Regions from separate parts of the Homo sapiens genome. Here regions 2 and 3 are each linked to region 1. The links come from fine-mapping of genetic effects on plasma protein levels. A gene starts in region 1. Each other region holds a variant in brackets. All regions are shown on one strand. Distances are between the middles of the regions.

What was found. PIP is the posterior inclusion probability: the model's chance that the variant is causal. Protein levels are from antibody-based Olink assays in UK Biobank. Linkage for the fine-mapping came from a reference panel and not from the study's own genotypes, which makes the PIPs less certain.
Region 2: its variant is fine-mapped to the plasma level of the CNPY4 protein (UK Biobank, PIP 0.96).
Region 3: its variant is fine-mapped to the plasma level of the CNPY4 protein (UK Biobank, PIP above 0.99).

The regions. Positions count from the first base shown.
Region 1 is chr7:100,118,481-100,121,240 of GRCh38, forward strand. It overlaps CNPY4 (canopy FGF signaling regulator 4), which reads left to right and starts at 1,154. Exons shown (of 6, transcript NM_152755.2): 1 at 1,154-1,382. The coding sequence starts at 1,265. TAF6 (TATA-box binding protein associated factor 6) reads right to left here and starts at 878. Exons shown (of 15, transcript NM_139315.3): 1 at 724-878. RefSeq lists enhancers at 831-980, 1,191-1,410, 1,781-1,850.
Region 2 is chr7:100,145,421-100,148,180 of GRCh38, forward strand. No RefSeq gene overlaps it. Among named protein-coding and RNA genes, the nearest start is that of LAMTOR4, 2.1 kb to the right of the region's middle. RefSeq lists an enhancer at 2,501-2,760. The variant T/C (reference allele first, on the strand shown) is at 1,529.
Region 3 is chr7:100,178,935-100,181,694 of GRCh38, forward strand. STAG3 (STAG3 cohesin complex component) reads left to right here. Exons shown (of 34, transcript NM_001282717.2): 2 at 1,559-1,738. The coding sequence starts at 1,623. Among named protein-coding and RNA genes, the nearest start is that of STAG3, 2.4 kb to the left of the region's middle. The variant A/C (reference allele first, on the strand shown) is at 1,312.

The sequences.
Region 1 (2,760 bases):
ACCCCCATTTCTGCAAAAATTAAAAAATTAGACGGACCTGGTGGTGTGAACCTGTCATCCCAGCTACTTAGGAGGCTGAGGCAGGAGGATCGCTTGAACTGAGGAGTTGGAGGCTGCAGTGAGCCAAGATGGTGCCACTGCACAACAGCCTGGGTAACAGACGGAAACCCTGTCTCAAAAAAAAAACAAAAAAAAATTAAAGTGGCACACTTGCAGTTGGACATTAGGAAGATTAACATATCAATACTGCTTAGGAGTAGTACAGGTAGGGTGGGGCCGTGCTGGAAGGATGGGAAGAGGGAGGCCGAAAAACAAATTGGTTCTTTTCAAACCATCCCTGATCTCCTCCCCGACTTTTATAAGTCTTATCTATAGGGAACACAACTATTCGAGACATACTCTGTGCCTGGCGCCGGGTTTACAAGAGGGGGTCGTGTCCCACTTCCCTGGCGAACTCCTACGAATCCTTCAATACCCGGCGGTACCCTCTGCCAGTAAAGGCTCATAAAACACGCTACAGTCACAGGATCTCCTCAGATCAGTGGAGGCGGCAGGAAGGCGTCCCAGGGAAGGGTTAACTTAAGCGAGATCCCAGCAGAGAAGCAGGTCGAAGATCCCCGGGCAGCGCGAAAGGAGGTTCAGAGAGCCCACCCCATCTCCTGCAACATCTCTCCAATGCAGGCACACACACGGGGTCCCCACGAGCACAGACACACAACCAACCGTCCTCTTTCCAGTCCCCACAAGGGACCTTCAAAGGGTCTCCTCCGGGGTACCACTCAGACCCGCCCCCGCCACCCGAGCGCGGGGAGCAGGAAAACTCTAGCGGCAGCCGAGACGCTGCTCACCCGGCGCTCGGCGCCATCTTGGCCCCGCCCCCTCGTGGGAGCAGGTCCTGGCAGAGCCTAAGAGCAAGTCACTGCCCCTTCCCCGTACCAGAATAAGTCCTCTAGGCTCGCAGAATGAAATTATATTTTAAAAGTTTGTTTCTACATCTATATATAAGGAGCACTCCCTCTTGGTGTAATTACTGCAATTTATTCCTTCACTACCCGGCTGCCAGGACCTTCAAGAGGCGCCACAAAACGGAGGCAGGGAAACCCGTAGCAACGAGGCCCCACCCTTGTTGGGCTGATCCTGCGCATGCGCCGACCTTCCTCGGCTGGATTTAAGGTTGCCGCTAGCCGCCTGGGAATTTAAGGGACCCACACTACCTTCCCGAAGTTGAAGGCAAGCGGTGATTGTTTGTAGACGGCGCTTTGTCATGGGACCTGTGCGGTTGGGAATATTGCTTTTCCTTTTTTTGGCCGTGCACGAGGCTTGGGCTGGGATGTTGAAGGAGGAGGACGATGACACAGAACGCTTGCCCAGCAAATGCGAAGGTATTTGAAGGGGGTAGCCCCTATAGGCATCGCCCGGCCACACCTCCTTCTTCTAGGCCGGACATCCTAGCCTGTATTGGGTGGGTCACCCGACCTCCTTGAAGGCTTGAGGGAGGTTCTGGTGGAGCTTGGCTGAATTTGGATGGGGTCAAGGAAGCGAACGTGTAGTGCCACCTCAAACTGCATCCAGAGAGAGCCTGCATTTTTTTGGCTGGCTTGGAACCCCCCGCCCGCCAATGGATTGTGGGAATTGTAGTTCAGGGACCATCGGCCCGGGACTGCCAACTTTTAGAGCATCTTCAGTGAGTGTTTACCTCATGTCACCAGACCTTAATCTGCAGAGGCTGCAGGAGCCGGGTGTGAGGCTCAGGCCTTGTGGACATCCGCTGCCCTACCCTAGCATAGACGCTCCCAAATTACAGGCCCCACACCCCGCTGAGGGGGTTTGAGGGTGAGTAATTCAGCCTTTGAAGCTCATAAACAAAAGGAAGCCACACAACTAGGAGAGTGTCCCCATCCGGTGAGACTTTGCAGACGGTGCGTACTATATGGATTTTTCAGCAAGCAGCGCCTTCCATAGCTGCACTAGCGTGGGGCCCAGTTGAGAAAGGGGGCTGGCCCTGATGCCCTAGTTTGCTGCCCTCCTGACTTTACGTTTCTTCCCTGGATTCCTTTTCTCTTCGCTTCACCCCCTCAACTGTATTCCAGTATCATGAAAGGCAGTCATGACAGTCTCATGACTTGGTCCTCATCTCTGTCTCCTTTCACCTCCGTGTGCCGCTCTTCTCCCCTGACCTGTCAATCTTTTTAAACAGACTTAATCACCTAATTGTATCAGTCCTTGCTTTAACACCTCTGCAGGCCTTCTATCAGAATACAGCCAACGGGCCTGGGCACAGTGGCTCACATCTGTAATCCCAGCACTTTGGAAGGCCAAGGTGGGAGGATCACTTGAGCCCATGAGTTCAGGCCCAGCTTCACCACAGCTTGTCATCCTTGGTTTATCTGTCCCAACTACACTGACAGAGACCTGTAGATAGAGATAATAGGTCTTATTGCTGTCTATATTGTTAGTATGCATACAGAAGGAGCTCAATAAATAACTGCAGGATAACAGTGAATACTTATACAGTGCTCACTATGTGCCAGCCTTTATATATGTTGATTTATTTAATCTTCATCACACTCCTATGAGGGACATACTATTATTATCCAATTGTATTAATTTTATATATATATATATATATATATATATTTTTTTTTTTTTTTTTTTTTTTTTTTTTTTTTTCTCTTTTCAGACAGCGTCTCATGCCGTTGCCCAGGCTGGAGTGCAGTGGTGCAATCTCGCTCACTGCAACCTCCGCCTCCCGGGTTCAAG
Region 2 (2,760 bases), 27 kb after region 1:
AGCCTGGGCGGGAAAAAAAAAAAAAAAAAAAGAGAGAGACAAACTCAATAGAAAAATGAGAAAAGAGTTGAACTGGGCCGGCATGGTGGCTCATGCCTGTAATCCCAGCACTTTGGGAGGCCGAGGTGGGTAGATCACTTAAGGTCAGGAGTTTGAGACCAGCCTGGCCAACATGGTCAACATGGTGAAACCCCCTTTCTACTAAAAACCCAAAAAAATTAGTCGTGCCTGGTGGTGCGTGCCTGTAATCCCAGCTACTCGGGAGGCTGAGGCAGGAGGATTGCTTGAACCTGGGAGGTGGAGGTTGCAGTGGGCCGAGATCGCACCACCGCTCTCTAGCCTGGGCAACAGAGGAAGACTATCTCAAAAAAAAAATAAATAAATAAGCCAGTTGCAGTGGCTCATGCCTGTAATCGTAGCACTTTGGGAGGCCGAGGCAGGTGGATTGCTCTGAGCTCAGGAGTTCAAGACCAGCCTGGGCAACACGGTGAAACCCCGTCTCTACTAAAAATACAAAAAAAAAAGCCGGGATGGCAACGTGCCCCTGTAGTCCCAGCTACTTGGGAGGCTGAGGCAAGGGAATTGCTTGAATCCAGGAGGCGGAGGTTGCAGTGAGCCAAGAGCGCACCATTGCACTCCAGCCTGGGCAACATAGCAAGACTCTGTCTCAAAAAAAAAAAAAAGTTGAACTGATACTTCACAAAAGATGATATCCCAAAAGCCAAACCTGTCTGAAAATGTGATCAACCTCATTAATATTTAGGTAAATGCAAATAAAAACTACAATGAGAAGCCATCGCATATCCAAAAACTTTACCCTAAAAGTGTGGCAATACTGGCTGGGCATGGTGGCTCAGGCCTGTAATCCCAACACTTTGGGAGGCTGATGCAGGCAGATCACGAGGTCAAGAGATCAAGACTATCCTGGCCAACATGGTGAAACCCATCTCTACTAAAAATACAAAAATTAGCTGGGTGTGGTGGTGCGCTCCTGTAGTCCCAGCTACTCGGGAGGCTGAGGCAGAAGAATTGCTTGAACCCGGGAACCAGGAGGTGGAGGTTGCAGTGAGCTGAGATTGCGCCACTGCACTCCAGCCTGGGCAACAGAACAAGACTGTCTCAAAAAAAAAACAAAAAACAAAAAGTGTGGCAATACCATGTGTTAATGGAGCTGGAGATAACTGGGAACTCTGACACATTGCTAGAGGAGTGTGAGTTGGTCCAACCAGTTTGATTTGCAGACCATAGATAAAAAAGATAGGAAACTCTCTGATTCATTTTATCTGGCAACCTGCTCTTTCTACCAAAAGCAGATAAAGAATATACCAAAAAGAAACTACAGCCCAATCTCATTTATCATAATAGATTTTAAAAATTCTAAATAAAGCAGTAAAACAAATGGGTAGTATAATTTGTTCCAGCAGATTTTATTCCAGAAACACAAAGATGGTTAAATATCAAGAATACTGCCACCATAATTTATTACATCAAAATCTTTTTTTTTTCTTTTGAGACGGAGTTTCATTCT[T/C]GTTGCCCAGGTTGGAGTGCAATGGCACAATCTCAGCTCATTGCAACCTTCGCCTCCTGGATTCAAGGATTCTCCTGCCTCAGCCTCCCCAGTAGCTGGGATTACAGGCATGCACCACCACACCCACCTAGTTTTTTTTTTTTTTGTTTGTTTGTTTTGTATTTTTAGTAGTGATGAGGTTTCACCATGTTGGCCAGGCAGGTCTCGAACTCCTGACTTCAGGTGATCCACCCGCCTTGGTCTCCCAAAGTGCTGGGATTACAGGTGTGAGCTACCACGCCCAGCCTTGAAATTGCTGTTTCTAACAAGTCTTAAAAGACACCCAGACTTTAACAATTGTTATTATATTCAGATTTTTTTGTTGCTTTTTGAGACAATCTTGCTCTTTTACCCAGTCTTGAGTGCAGTAGCATGATCATGGCTCACTGCAGCCTCAACCTCCTGGGCTCAAGCGATTCTCCCACCTCAGCCTCCCGGGTAGCTGGGACTACATGTGCAGTATCATGCCTGGTTAATTTTTAAATTTTTAGAGATGGGGTCTTGCTATGTTGCCCAGGCTTCTAGAATCATTCTTCATATTATTTCACTAACACAGCCTCCACCACATTAATATGGCAACAGGTTTAGAAATTATTTAAAACAAAAATTTCTAATGTTTACATATATTGTGTGATGTGTGTGTGTGTGTGTGTGTGTGTGTGTGTGTGTATCATTCCAAGGTACTGTTTCTAATTTTTTCCTGTAGGGAATGAATATTCAGTATTGCAGCTGCATTGGCTAGCTGGGGATTCTATTTACCACCACATTGTCCCGGACTGAATCTGGGGACAAAAAAACCACTTCGGGAACAAATTCTTGTCTTCAACAAAGAGCTGTCTTGAGTAGGCACAAAAGTAGCATTTGAGGGCCGGACGCGGTGGCTCAAGCCTGTAATCCCAGCACTTTGGGAGGCCGAGGCGGGCGGATCACGAGGTCAGGAGTTTGAGACCAGCCTGGCCAATATGGTGAAACCCTATCTCTACTAAAAACACAAAAATAGCCGGGCGTGGTGGTGGGCGCCTGTAATCCCAGCTACTCGCGAGGCTGAGGCAGGAGAATTGCTTGAACACGGGAGGCGGAAGTTGTATTGAGCCAGAGATCGCGCCATTGCACTGCAACCTGGGCGACCGAGTGAGACTCCGACTCAAAAAAAAAAAAAAGTAGCATTTGAGTACCTTTTTTTTCCTTTTCTT
Region 3 (2,760 bases), 60 kb after region 1:
CGTCCCGCTTCATTCTGCCGAGTAGCTGGGACTACAGGTGCACCACCACACCTGGCTAGTTTTTTTGGTTTTGGTTTGGTTTTTTCGTAGAGACAGGATCTTGCTATATTGCCCAGACTGATTTTGAACTCGTAGGGTTAGGCAGTCCTCCTGCTTCAGCTGCTCAAAGTGCTGGGATTCCAGGTTTGAGCCACCCTGGGCACCTTGCCTTTTTTTTTTTTTTTTTAATTATGAGTTAAATTCCCTTGCAGCAGGCAGTTTACACTTCTGAAGCCTCTAGAGAGGGCTGTGTCTGAAGCTGCCCTGGTGTGTACCTTGCTTGGGTTTTGTTTTTTTTTTTTTGGGTGTGTCTCATGTTGCCAAGGCTGGTCTCAAACTGCTGGGCTCAAGCAGTCCTCCTGTCTCAGCCTCCTGAGTAGCTGGGACCACAGGTGTGCGCAACAACACCTAGCTAGTTTTTGCTTATTTTTTGTAGAGATGGGGTCTTGCTATGTTGCCCAGATTGGTCTTGAACTACTGGGCTCAAGCAGTCCTCCCGCCTCAGCCGCCTAAAGTTCTGGGATTACAAGTATGATCTACCACACCCAGTGTGCAATTTTTTTTTTTAAAGAAAATACCTATGAGTTAAATTTCCTTGCAGTAGGCAGTTTGCACTTCCACAGCCTCTAGAGAGAGATGTGTCTGAAGCTACCCTGGTGTGTGACTTCCTCAGCTTTTGGAGAGCAACTCCAAACCTGCTGGCCAGTTTCTGGGGTGTTGTTGTGCTTAATCCCTTGATGCCTTAGGTCAGCTCTTTGTCTTATTTATTTATTTATTTTGAGATGGAGTTTCACTCTTGTTGCCCAGGCTGGAGTGCAGTGGCACGATCTCAGCTCACCACAACCTCCGCCTTCTAGGTTCAAGCGATTCTCCTGCCTCAGCCTCCCAAGTAGCTGGAATTACAGGCATATGCCACCACACCCGGATAATTTTGTATTTTTAGTAGAAATGGGGTTTCTCCATGTTGGTCAGGCTGGTCTCGAACCCCTGACCTCAGGTGATCTGCCTGCCTCGACCTCCCAAAGTGCTGGGATTACAGGCATGAGTCACTGTGCCCAGCCATTTGTCTTATTTATCATTACTATTTTTTTGAGGGGGGACAGGGTCTTCTTCTGTCACCCAAGCTGGATGGAGTACAGTGGTGCGATCGTAGCTCACTGCAGCCTTGAACTCCTGGACTCAAGCAATCCTCCCACCTCAGCCTCCTGAATAGCTGAATACAGGCATGCTCTACCACACCTGACTAATGATTATTATTATTTTTTTTTTAGA[A/C]ATGGGGTCTTGCTGTATTGCCCAGGCTGGTCTTGAACTCCTGGGCTCAAGCCATCCTCCTGCCTTGGCCTCCCAAAGTGCTGGGATTATAGGCATGAGCCACGGTGCCCAGCCTTTGTCTTAGTTTTTGGTCCCCCTCACCTGACCCCAGAGTTCTAGAACCATTCCCTTGGAAAGAAAGGGACTGGTCAGGGCTGGGGATGGAGAAGTGCTGTGGTAGGAGCCCTTTCTTCTCTTTCTTCCCCAGCTGGATCGCCATACCTACCCTGTGGTCCTCATCTTCCTGGCCTCATAGCTCCTCCTCTCCAAGCATGTCTTCCCCGTTGCAAAGAGCTGTGGGAGATACCAAGAGGGCCTTGTCTGCATCTTCTAGTTCCTCTGCCAGTCTACCCTTTGATGACAGGGACTCAAACCATACCTCAGAGGGGTAAGTAGATGTTGCATTGTGTGGCCACTTCCTGTGTCCCTGGCAGCCTTCCCCCTCGTTTTCCCACATTGATGATAATATGCGTGGGACTGTGTGAAAACACCAGAAGTGCTATACTCGTTCAGCACAGTGACACCCTCCCTCCAGCTCCAGGTGTTTTTTTTGGCGGTCCTAGATGTTGTAGACATCAAAATAGTAGTACATCCTGTTTTTTTTTTTTTTTTTGAGACGGAGTCTCGCCCTGTCGCCCAGGCTGGAGTGCAGTGGCGCGATCTCGGCTTACTGCAACCTCCGCCTCCTGGGTTCAAGCACATCCTGTTTTTAATCCATCATCCATCTTGTCTAAACCTCTCTTAAACACATTTCTATGTTCAGCATGTACCAACCCTGGTGGGGGCTGAGAGCTGGCAGATGGGGGAGTAAAGAGTTCTTTATTTGTTGCCTGGTAAATTGTATATACTTTTTGGCTAGTGTCCCCTATTTCTTCTACTTGGGGATTTTGTAAATAGGTCTGTGTATCCTTATTTATTACCATATATGAGTTTATTCTGTGTAGGTTATAATAATATATCTTGGTTTTTTACCTTTCCAGAAGGAAAAAAGCGAATTTCATACAGATCTGCTTTATCCCCTGGCTGTTTTAATTGGCTTTCTCTGAATCATTTCTGTTTCTGTCAGTGCTGCTGTGGGGGACCAGATTATATCAAAGTTATAAACTTGAATTGATAAGACATGTGGTTTATGTTTCAAGGGGGTGAAATTTAACTCTAGATACATATTACTCTCCCATTTATGGATGAATGATAGATGACTTCCTGAGCCATGATTATCTTTCTCTACAAAGAGCAGTGATCTCGCTACCTGCTAAGTGAGTATCATTTGATTCTCTTCTTCGGAGAGAATACTAGGAAGAGTTGTCCTTCTCCTGCCTCATTTCCTCATTCTTCATCTCCATTGCTTTCATGTGAAAGTTTTCCTTTAAGGCTTTGTCCCGGCCGGGTGTGGTGGCTCATGCCTATAAT